2 linked regions of the Homo sapiens genome follow. The protein of the gene in region 2 interacts with the protein of the main gene of each other region in a pairwise test. Each region holds a gene or a part of one and is shown on either strand. Other genes may lie near its edges.

What was found. Proteins that work in one complex are often made in the same cells at the same time.
Region 1: the proteins of RXRG (region 2) and DCK interact in a two-hybrid assay, tested with the Homo sapiens proteins (one large-scale study listed by BioGRID and IntAct).

The regions. Positions count from the first base shown.
Region 1 is NC_000004.12:70,991,933-70,996,854, forward strand, and holds the start of DCK (deoxycytidine kinase), read left to right. Parts: upstream 1-1,716; 5' UTR 1,717-1,903; coding exon 1,904-1,994; intron 1,995-2,016; exon of another isoform or gene 2,017-2,085; intron 2,086-4,922. UniProt on the Homo sapiens protein: Phosphorylates the deoxyribonucleosides deoxycytidine, deoxyguanosine and deoxyadenosine. Has broad substrate specificity, and does not display selectivity based on the chirality of the substrate.
Region 2 is NC_000001.11:165,413,638-165,417,874, reverse strand, and holds part of RXRG (retinoic acid receptor RXR-gamma), read left to right. Parts: intron 1-654; coding exon 655-834; intron 835-4,237. UniProt on the Homo sapiens protein: Receptor for retinoic acid. Retinoic acid receptors bind as heterodimers to their target response elements in response to their ligands, all-trans or 9-cis retinoic acid, and regulate gene expression in various biological processes.

The DNA of each region.
Region 1 (4,922 bases), on a different chromosome or scaffold from region 2:
AGGGATAAGTAAAAGTAATATATACAAAATAATTGCATAACAGAATAATATAGGGCAGTTACATAGAATGATTCTTGCTGTTTAATCCTGGAAAATGTGATCCCCGAGGATTCACATTTTAATTTCTGCTCTTTATTTCTGAGGATGGAGTCACCGTTTTCCCCTTCTGGCTACACATTTAGATGCATTTCAGGTCTGATGATAGTTGCAATGTAAAAAAGAATAGCAAGGCCTTTGGTTTCTGTAGACAATTTGGACCAGATAACTTCCAGACTGGGTAATATCCGGTTTATTAGTGTTACTGGATGGGAAGTCTTGACTGAGTTGTCTGGGTTTTTGGCGTGTTGAACAAAGAATTGAACAAAACGTAGAAACAAAGCAACAAAAGAAGCAACGAAAGACAAAACAACAAAAGAACGAAGTAACAAAAGCACAAATTTATTGAAGCGAACCAAGTGCTTCAAGAGTCCCAATTGCAGTGTTCTTAAGGGTTACTAGGCTAAAAGAATTTGGTAAATCCCTAGGTGCCCTTTACAGTCGTCCAATTGGTTGCACCCTATGAAGGATTGGCCTGCGACCAATCAGAGGCTGAAATGGAGATGGCCGAGGACAATCAGAGGCGATGTGGAAACTTCTGTCTTGTAATCACAGGAGTGAAGGTGTGGCCTGTATGCTGCCTAGTCTTGCCTAGAAATTGCTGCACCTGCTGTTCTTTTGCTTATGCCTTAACCCTTGGTTACCCTAATTCCCTATTCTCTTGCCTCATTAGGTCTTTACCCTGACTAAAAATGCACTCATCTAGCTGGGACAAATCCTACACTGCATTTGTCCCATCTAGATGAGTATTCTAGCAGAGTACATGGCACATGAGTAGGCATTCAAAAATTCAACATACAGTACATTTTGTTACCTATGTGCCAGGTGTCGGGCAGGCTGAGTTAACAGCTGAACAGAAACCTACCTACCCAACGTGCTAACTTCTATACAGCATGGTCGTGCATCCAAATCAAATGGAAAGCGGTATGGGAGATCTGGAAAGGCCTCCTGTGGGTGGCATCTGACTACCTAAATTCCCATCCCAGTTTCACTTACTGACTTTGACACTTGGAACAAGCAGCCTCTCAGTGCCTGTTTTCCCACTGGCAGGTAAATGGGCTAATGACGGTATTTCTGGCACTAGACTTCGTTAATTAATGAAAAGCACATAGAAGAAAACAGCCTGGCTCTCTAAGTGGGCAGTGCGATTCCCAAGGACGGCACTTCGCCTGATAGTCTTCCTCTAGGCTGAGAAGCCAGAGTAAATCCATTTGATTTTCCTACCACACAGTGCCTTCTCCCCAGATGAGTTCAAAGCTTTAAGTCTATCCAGTTCTGTCCAGACGCGTCTGTTCATCTCCAACAGGCCCACTAGAGAGGCGGGTTTTCCAAAGCCTGGCACGGCCCACTGCAGGTGACGCCCTCTGCCCTCCAGCGCCCTCAGGCCTCTGGGGTCCACCCTTCCTCCCCACCCGACTCCGGAACCTCTTCCCGCGCCCTGCCCGGGCGCCTGGCTGCTTGGGGTAGAGGCCTTCCGCCACACGCGCGGCCCCGCCCCGGCCTTCACGTGACCTGGCGTGCGGAGCGCGCACGCGGGAACCCGCGCTGGAGGCGGGCGAGGGCCGAGGGGCAGCTAGGGAGCGCGGCTTGAGGAGGGCGGGGCCGCCCCGCAGGCCCGCCAGTGTCCTCAGCTGCCTCCGCGCGCCAAAGTCAAACCCCGACACCCGCCGGCGGGCCGGTGAGCTCACTAGCTGACCCGGCAGGTCAGGATCTGGCTTAGCGGCGCCGCGAGCTCCAGTGCGCGCACCCGTGGCCGCCTCCCAGCCCTCTTTGCCGGACGAGCTCTGGGCCGCCACAAGACTAAGGAATGGCCACCCCGCCCAAGAGAAGCTGCCCGTCTTTCTCAGCCAGCTCTGAGGGGACCCGCATCAAGAAAATCTCCATCGAAGGGAACATCGGTAAGGAGCCTCCGGAAATGTGGGACGCAAGGCTGGGGTGTCGCGGCAGTGGCTGAAGCTTCCCTTCGCCGCATCTCTCTGCAGCAACTCGGTGAGGGCTTTCCCTCCAGCCTGGCGGTGTGGACGCGGCCTCGGCTTCCTTTCCCACCCAGAGCATCCTTCCCTTACCTCCCGCTCCACGGGGTGACTGCGGTCCCCGGGGTCAGACTGGGCGCCAGGCCTGCGGTCTCTGTGAGGCGCGCTTTGAACCTCTGCTCCCTCTTTGTTGGGAACTCGCAAAGGGAAGCGGGGGAAGGGTATTAGATTTCTTGAGGTGTAACTTACATTAAATTCACCCTTTTTAGGTGTACTCTTCTATGAGGTTTGACAAACATTATGCCTTTTGCTATCACCATGATCGAGATACAGAACATTTTCATCACCTTAGAAAGTTCCTACCTGCTCCTTTGTATTCAGCCCCCTCCACCCTTCCTATTCCCTGGCACCCACTGATTTGATTTCTATCCCTGCAAGTGTTGCCTTTTCCAGAATGCCATATAAATGGAATCATAGGCTATATCGCCTTTTGTGTCTGGCGTCTTTCATTTAGCATAATGCTTTTGAAATTCATTCATGTTACTTGTGTCTGTAGTTTGTTTCTTTTTATTGCTGAGTAGTATTCCATTGCATGGATGTACCATCGTTTATCCATTTTCTAGTTGTGGACCTCAGGGTTGTTTACAGTTTTTTAGCTATATTATTAGCGAAGCATTGTTTTAGCTATATTATTAACGAAACTCGAAACATTCGAGTACAAGCAAAGAGGTCTTTAATGATCTTAATAGCATGGAGTTCCTCACCCCTTACTCCACATCCAAGTAAACATTGGATTATGATTCAAAGACCACTAACGTTTCTGTTAACTCAGATGGGGGGCAGACTAGGCCATGCCTGTCACTTTGCAAGATACACACCAACGTCCGATTCTTCTGTATCTCCAACCACAGGAAACCTACCCCTGAAACTTCCTGTTTTGATAGATTTAAAAAAAAATTTTTTTAGCTCCAGGTTGGGTGCTGGTCATTCATGCATACAGCAAATTTTTTAAAATTCTTACCACATTCAAAGCACTGTACCTTCTTGAAAAAGGCCAGGCAAGCAGATGCTTTAAGCATTCAAATGAATAGAAAAACTGCATTCTCAAAGAGGACTTCTTATTTCATTGCTCCAGAATTAAAGCACCAGTAGAAAGACCATATGATATAATTAGCAATGTAAGTTATTTGAGGGTGCATGTTTACTAGTATGGAATCTCTGACAGCTGCTTACTGAATAAAGAAGACCATATATAAAGACAGGAGAAAGTGGCTGAACAAAGCCATCTGAAAAGTAAATTTGAGGCAGGGCATGGAGGCTCATACTTGTAATCCCAGGATTTGGGGAGGCTTAGGCAAGAGGATCACTTGAGTCCAGGAGTTCCAGATCAGCCTGGGCAACATAGTGAGAACTCATCTCCACAAAAAAATTAAAAAATTAGTTGCATGTGTTGGTGTGCCTCCAGCTACTCAGGAGGCTGAGGCAGGAGGATTGCTTGAGCCCAAAGATCAAGGCCACAGTGAGCCATGATCACACTACTGCACTCTAGCCTGGGTGACAGAGCAAGACTCTGTTAAAAACACAGAAACAAAACAGTAAAGTTGAATGAATAACCCCTCGGATCAATACCACAATACATTCATCCCCTTTCCCTCTCTCCAATCCAGTTAGGTAGCATCATATTTAGAAATATTTCCTCAAAGCATCTTTAATCTTTTCAGCAGCTGAAATAATTTCCTAATATATCATCCCATCTCCAGTTTCTCTTAACTACTTCTGCAACGGTCTTTTTGTATGCAAATGTCATGTGTTATCCCCTGCTTAAAATTCTTCACTGATTTTGCCTTTACCTACACTGAAAGTAGTTGTGAACTGATAGCCTGCAATTGCACAATATTGGCCTGCACAGGTTGAAAAAAAATTTTACTGGCCAGTGGCTCAAGCTTGTAATCCCAGTGCTTTGGGAGGCTGAGGCAGGAGGATTGCTTGAGGCCAGGAGTTTGAGACTAGCATGGCAACATAGTGAGAACTAGTCTCTAAGAAAAATAAAAATAAAATTAGGCCAGGCACAGTGGATCACGCCTGTAGCTCCAACTACTCAGGCGGCTGATGCTGATGTGGGAGGATCACTTGAATGTGGGAGGCAGAAGTTGCAGTGAGCTGAGATGGCACCACTGCACCCCAGCCTGGGTGACAGAGTCTCAAAAAAAAAAAAAAAGCCAGTTGTGTTAGCATGCACGTTTAGTCCTAGCTACTCAGGAGGCTGAGGTGGAGATCTTTGAGACCTATAGTTTGAGGCTGCCGTGAGCTGTGGTTGTGCCACTGCCCTACAGCCTGGGCTACAGAGTGAGACCCTGTGTCTAAAGAAAAAAAAATTAAATTTGTTGCTAACTCGAAAACGTTTTGAGATTTCCCATAAACAATTAGATTCTTGGCTTCTTTTGAAAAATCTGAAGATCTGTTAACACCGGGCCTGCATTTCTGTATGACAACAATTGGTGTTTAGATGGAGCATGTTCCTTGCCATTTTTCGTCTCCCTGACACTGAGACTTTGTTAGTTACTGTTCATTATTGGTCTTGCACTTTTGTTCATGTCTCCTTCACCTTATTTGCCAGATCCAAATAAGCTGTAAATGCACAAATTGTTAAGCTGTGCGTAAACTATTTTGCAATTCCTCTATTTTTCCTAGAATTTGAACTTTACTTGGTCGTTTTAGTTTTATATTTATATAACCCATCTTCTTATGTTCTGTGTTACTCAAATGTTCCCTTATGTTAGATTGATGGAGGACTTACCTGCTTCTCATCTTAATAGTCTGTTCAGAATGACTTTCAGCATTATAATGCCTGCT
Region 2 (4,237 bases):
CACCTCAGCCTCCCAAAGTGCTGGGATTACAGGCGTGAGCCACCATGCCCGGCTGCAAAATCAGCTTCTATCAGATCTTTATGTCATAGCTTGATTGTCATATGATGATATAAAGATCAAACAGCAATTAATTTCCTCAACAGTCAATAGCACTTAACAATTCATAACTCAGAATTCTGTTCATAGTTTATGGTAAAGGATAATAAATTTAAATAGGTTTCCTAAGAACTTGGGTCTCAATTATAATTAGTTAAGTTGGGGTTCTTTTCCTGCTAGGTAATACGTGACAAGCATATATATTTTTATTTATTATTTACACTAATGTTTTGAATGGAGGCAGAACATTTGCTTAACTAAACCCAAGAGTTGCCTTTATAAAATAAATATAAAGAAAGCCTTAGCTTTAGGAATTTTCTAATAATTCTCTCTGGAATTAGTAATGCAGAGGAAAGACACGAGGACAAGTGTATTTGCTGTGTCTTAGTTTGGTTCCTGTGATCAAGCCTGCATTCTCTGCTAGTGATTATTTGCTTTCTGTCCCAATGCCCAAGTGATATGCCTGTTTCTCTGGGGGAAGAGCCAAGAGGTTCTTTTGAATGAAAGATCCAAATAAACACAAGAACAATCTATGGAATGTTCTTTTCTTCTAACCAGGAAAGCACTACGGGGTATACAGTTGTGAAGGCTGCAAAGGGTTCTTCAAGAGGACGATAAGGAAGGACCTCATCTACACGTGTCGGGATAATAAAGACTGCCTCATTGACAAGCGTCAGCGCAACCGCTGCCAGTACTGTCGCTATCAGAAGTGCCTTGTCATGGGCATGAAGAGGGAAGGTGAGACACATTCAGTTCCAAAACTCGTGTCCGGAGAGAGGCATTTCCTAGGCAAGGGGACATTCAACTGCAATACACGAGAAGTCATGGTGCCCAAAGTCATCCTAATCTCCACTTCAAATTTCTTTCCCACAGGGCTCTAAAGAGAAGTCTGAATAGGAAATTAGGATGACTTTGGGTACTCGTGTATTGCAATTGAATGTACCCTTTTCCTAGGAAGTGTGTCTCTCCAGAGCAGAGAGGGCAAGAGGCATCTTCCTCCTCCACATTTACCCATCCTCTTCTGGAGCCCAGATGGTGATCCCCAAACTGGACCGTCTCCTTTTTTCTTCCAATAACCAGGCAGCAAGTCTCAGAGCCAAGGTTTCAGGGTCCTTATGATCTGCTCTACCAATGGATCGTCAGACTGACCTTCAGGGTGGAGGTGACTTTTCTCCTCTAATCCTAGGTCTCTCTCTGGGGCAAACTGTAGGTTTCATTTCACTCACTGAGTTTTTTTTACCTGGGTCTGCTATCAAATCTTTGATATTGGTATATTCCATCATCTTTTGGCATTACTGGCATTACACAGGTTTGACAGACCTAACCTTCCCATTCAGAGAGACCACCACTGTGTGTTGAAACCATCACATCTTTTAATTTATAGTGTGGTTTAGCTGGGTATTCTAGTATGAGAGAAAAAAACCTCAGAAGGTGCTTTCTGTCCCGTTAGTAGACAGAAAAGACTTTCCATTAAGTATCACAGATAAATTGAAGTGGGCAGTTAATTAACTAGTGAGCTCAAGCAGGGACATGGGGATAGTGGTGAATCTTAATAGATTTTAGAGTAAGAAGGTCCTGCCTCTCTTTAGGAAATAAGAACAAGGAGTTCAGTCAGGCCCAGCACGCTCCTCATTCTTGAGGAACTTCTTTTCTGTGAGAAGAGGGCATCTTACTGAAAGGGTCAATGAAGAGGGGCTCTTTGTGTCCCTGCTAAAAGTGAATGTCACCCATGAGCAAACAAATTCTTGTAATCTTAACATGTCAAGATGCTAGAGGTGGCCTTACAGAGTCACCTAATCAACTGTAACCATCCGCCAGATGAGAAAACAGGCTCACAGAGATGAACGGAGTTTCCTGAGGTGCCAAAGGCAGTTAATGAACTGACCCCAGGTCTCTGACTTTCAGATCAGCCCTAGTCTGTGTCTCCTTCCCTGCCAGGTTGTGAAGGAACTGAAGATGGCCCTCGCTGTGACATTTAACAGCAACCTCAAAAGTGAGAGACCCAAATCTCAGCTCCTGAAAATCTGCCCCACACCCCAGCCTGTTCCTCACACAGTCTTCCCCTTTCAGGAAATGGCCACTTATTTTCCAGTTGCTCAGAACAAAAACCATTGACTCCCCTCTTTTTTCACACACCACATGTAGCGGGTGAGGAAGTCTTGTCTCTTCCTCAAACTATGCCCAGAATCTTTCCATGTCTCACTACTTTTACCACTAACCCCCCAATCTAAGCTAACTGTATATTTTGTAGTGATCTACACAGCATCCTAAGACATCTCCCTGCTTCCATCTTTGTCCTCCTACAGTCTCTTCTTAGCACAGTAGCCAGAGGGAGGCTTTGAACAAGTAGATTGGGTCAAGGTGTTCCTTCAGCAGAATCCTCCAATGTCTTTCCTTCTCACCCAGAAAAAAAGGCAAAAATCTTTGTCATGACTTAAGGTTGTACATAGTCTGGATGCCCTGTTGTCTCTCAGCCTCAGCCTTCCTGGCCTCTTTGGTGATCCTCAACTATACCAGAGATGCACCCACCTCAGGGCCTTTGCACTTGCTGTCTGTCTAGAATGATTTTTTTTTCAGGTATCTGATGGCTCACTTTTTCTCATCCTTCGTATCTTTACCCAATTCTCACTTTCTTGGTAAAGCCTTGCCTGGTTATATCATCTAAAATTGCACCAGCCACCCCCAACCCTTCCTTGTCTCTTTTACACAGTAGTTATCATGATCTAACACTTGTACTTATCTTGTTTACTGTCTGTATCCATGAAGGCGGGGGCTTCATCTGCTTTTTTCCCCCACTGCTTTATCACCAGTGACTAATACATTGTAGCCATTTAATAAATTGTTGAATGAATAGTTTAAACTGAATGCTGAAATCAGAAGTTTTAGAAGTGCAGGAGCTCCTAAAAATGACTCATTCATTTATTCATTGAGTATTAGCTGAGTGCCTACTCTGTGCTTACGTCATACTTGCTGTGGCAGTGGGATCAATGATGTTACAGATTGGAGCATGCGATATGAAATACCTGCTGGTGAAGAACATCTTTTTTCCACCAGGATAGAATTGGATACTCCTTGGAGCTTCCCCCACCATGATTATCAAAATGAAACTAATGACTACAAGTATTTCTCCCATTAACAAGAGTCCAGTGACTGCAGGGTCATTTTTTTCCCTCCTAAAACACTTGAGATAAGTTTCCAATTGACTTGGAACAGTAACAGTTTTCATTAAGCACATGATATTGAATTAAAGGAAAGTGAATGGTCTCAGTCAGAGAAACCATCATTTCTATTTCTCTAGAGTTATTCTAATCCATCTCTGAAAATGCAGGCTGAATATCCCCAGCTCAGTTAGGGACAGAGTGGTCAATAGGCCAAATGTTGGGAACTGTGGTTCGTTAAATGTTTTTAAAAAAGGAAGGAAAACAGGGACATGTGAACTGTAAGAGACACTTCTATGGTTTGGGTACTTTAATAGAAAGTTGGACCCAATTTTTGCTCCTGCATTTTTTAAAAGAATGTGGAGAAACAGAAAGAATAGTGAAAAGCTGAGTAGTAAAAATTAGGAGAGGGAAAGGAGCTCTTAGGGAACTTTCTGAAGAGATTGGCACCATTTACCCTGACAAAGGGAAGGCAAAGAAGTGAATCAATTCCTCCGCTGACTATATAAGGGGGCGCATTTCAAAAGGCTACTGGATAGCCTGTCCACCGCCATCATTTCTGGTCTTGATTTATAGAATTTGGGGCTCAGTTTGAACACTTTCTTGAGGACAAGAATAATAACATCCTGGAGCAGATAACAGAGAGACCATGGAAATCACACAGATAAAGAGATGGAATTGGGGTAGGTACAGAATTTACCTGCCTGGGATCAGGGGCCAGGACCTGTTGCCCTTTTAGGATAAATAATGTTAAAGCTAGAGTGGACATTTTCTATTCTCTAACGTAACACGTCCATTTCCTGAAAGACAAATTAGAGGTTTGGAGAGCCTAGCCCACACAAGCCCACACAGCAAGCACATGGCAGACCCTGTATAGGACTGGGACCCTCTGATTAGTGGGCCACCTCAGGAATTCTGGAATGTCTATTTCCATGATTTCTTGTCATATACATGTAGTTTCAAGACTGGTGAATGGATTGCCT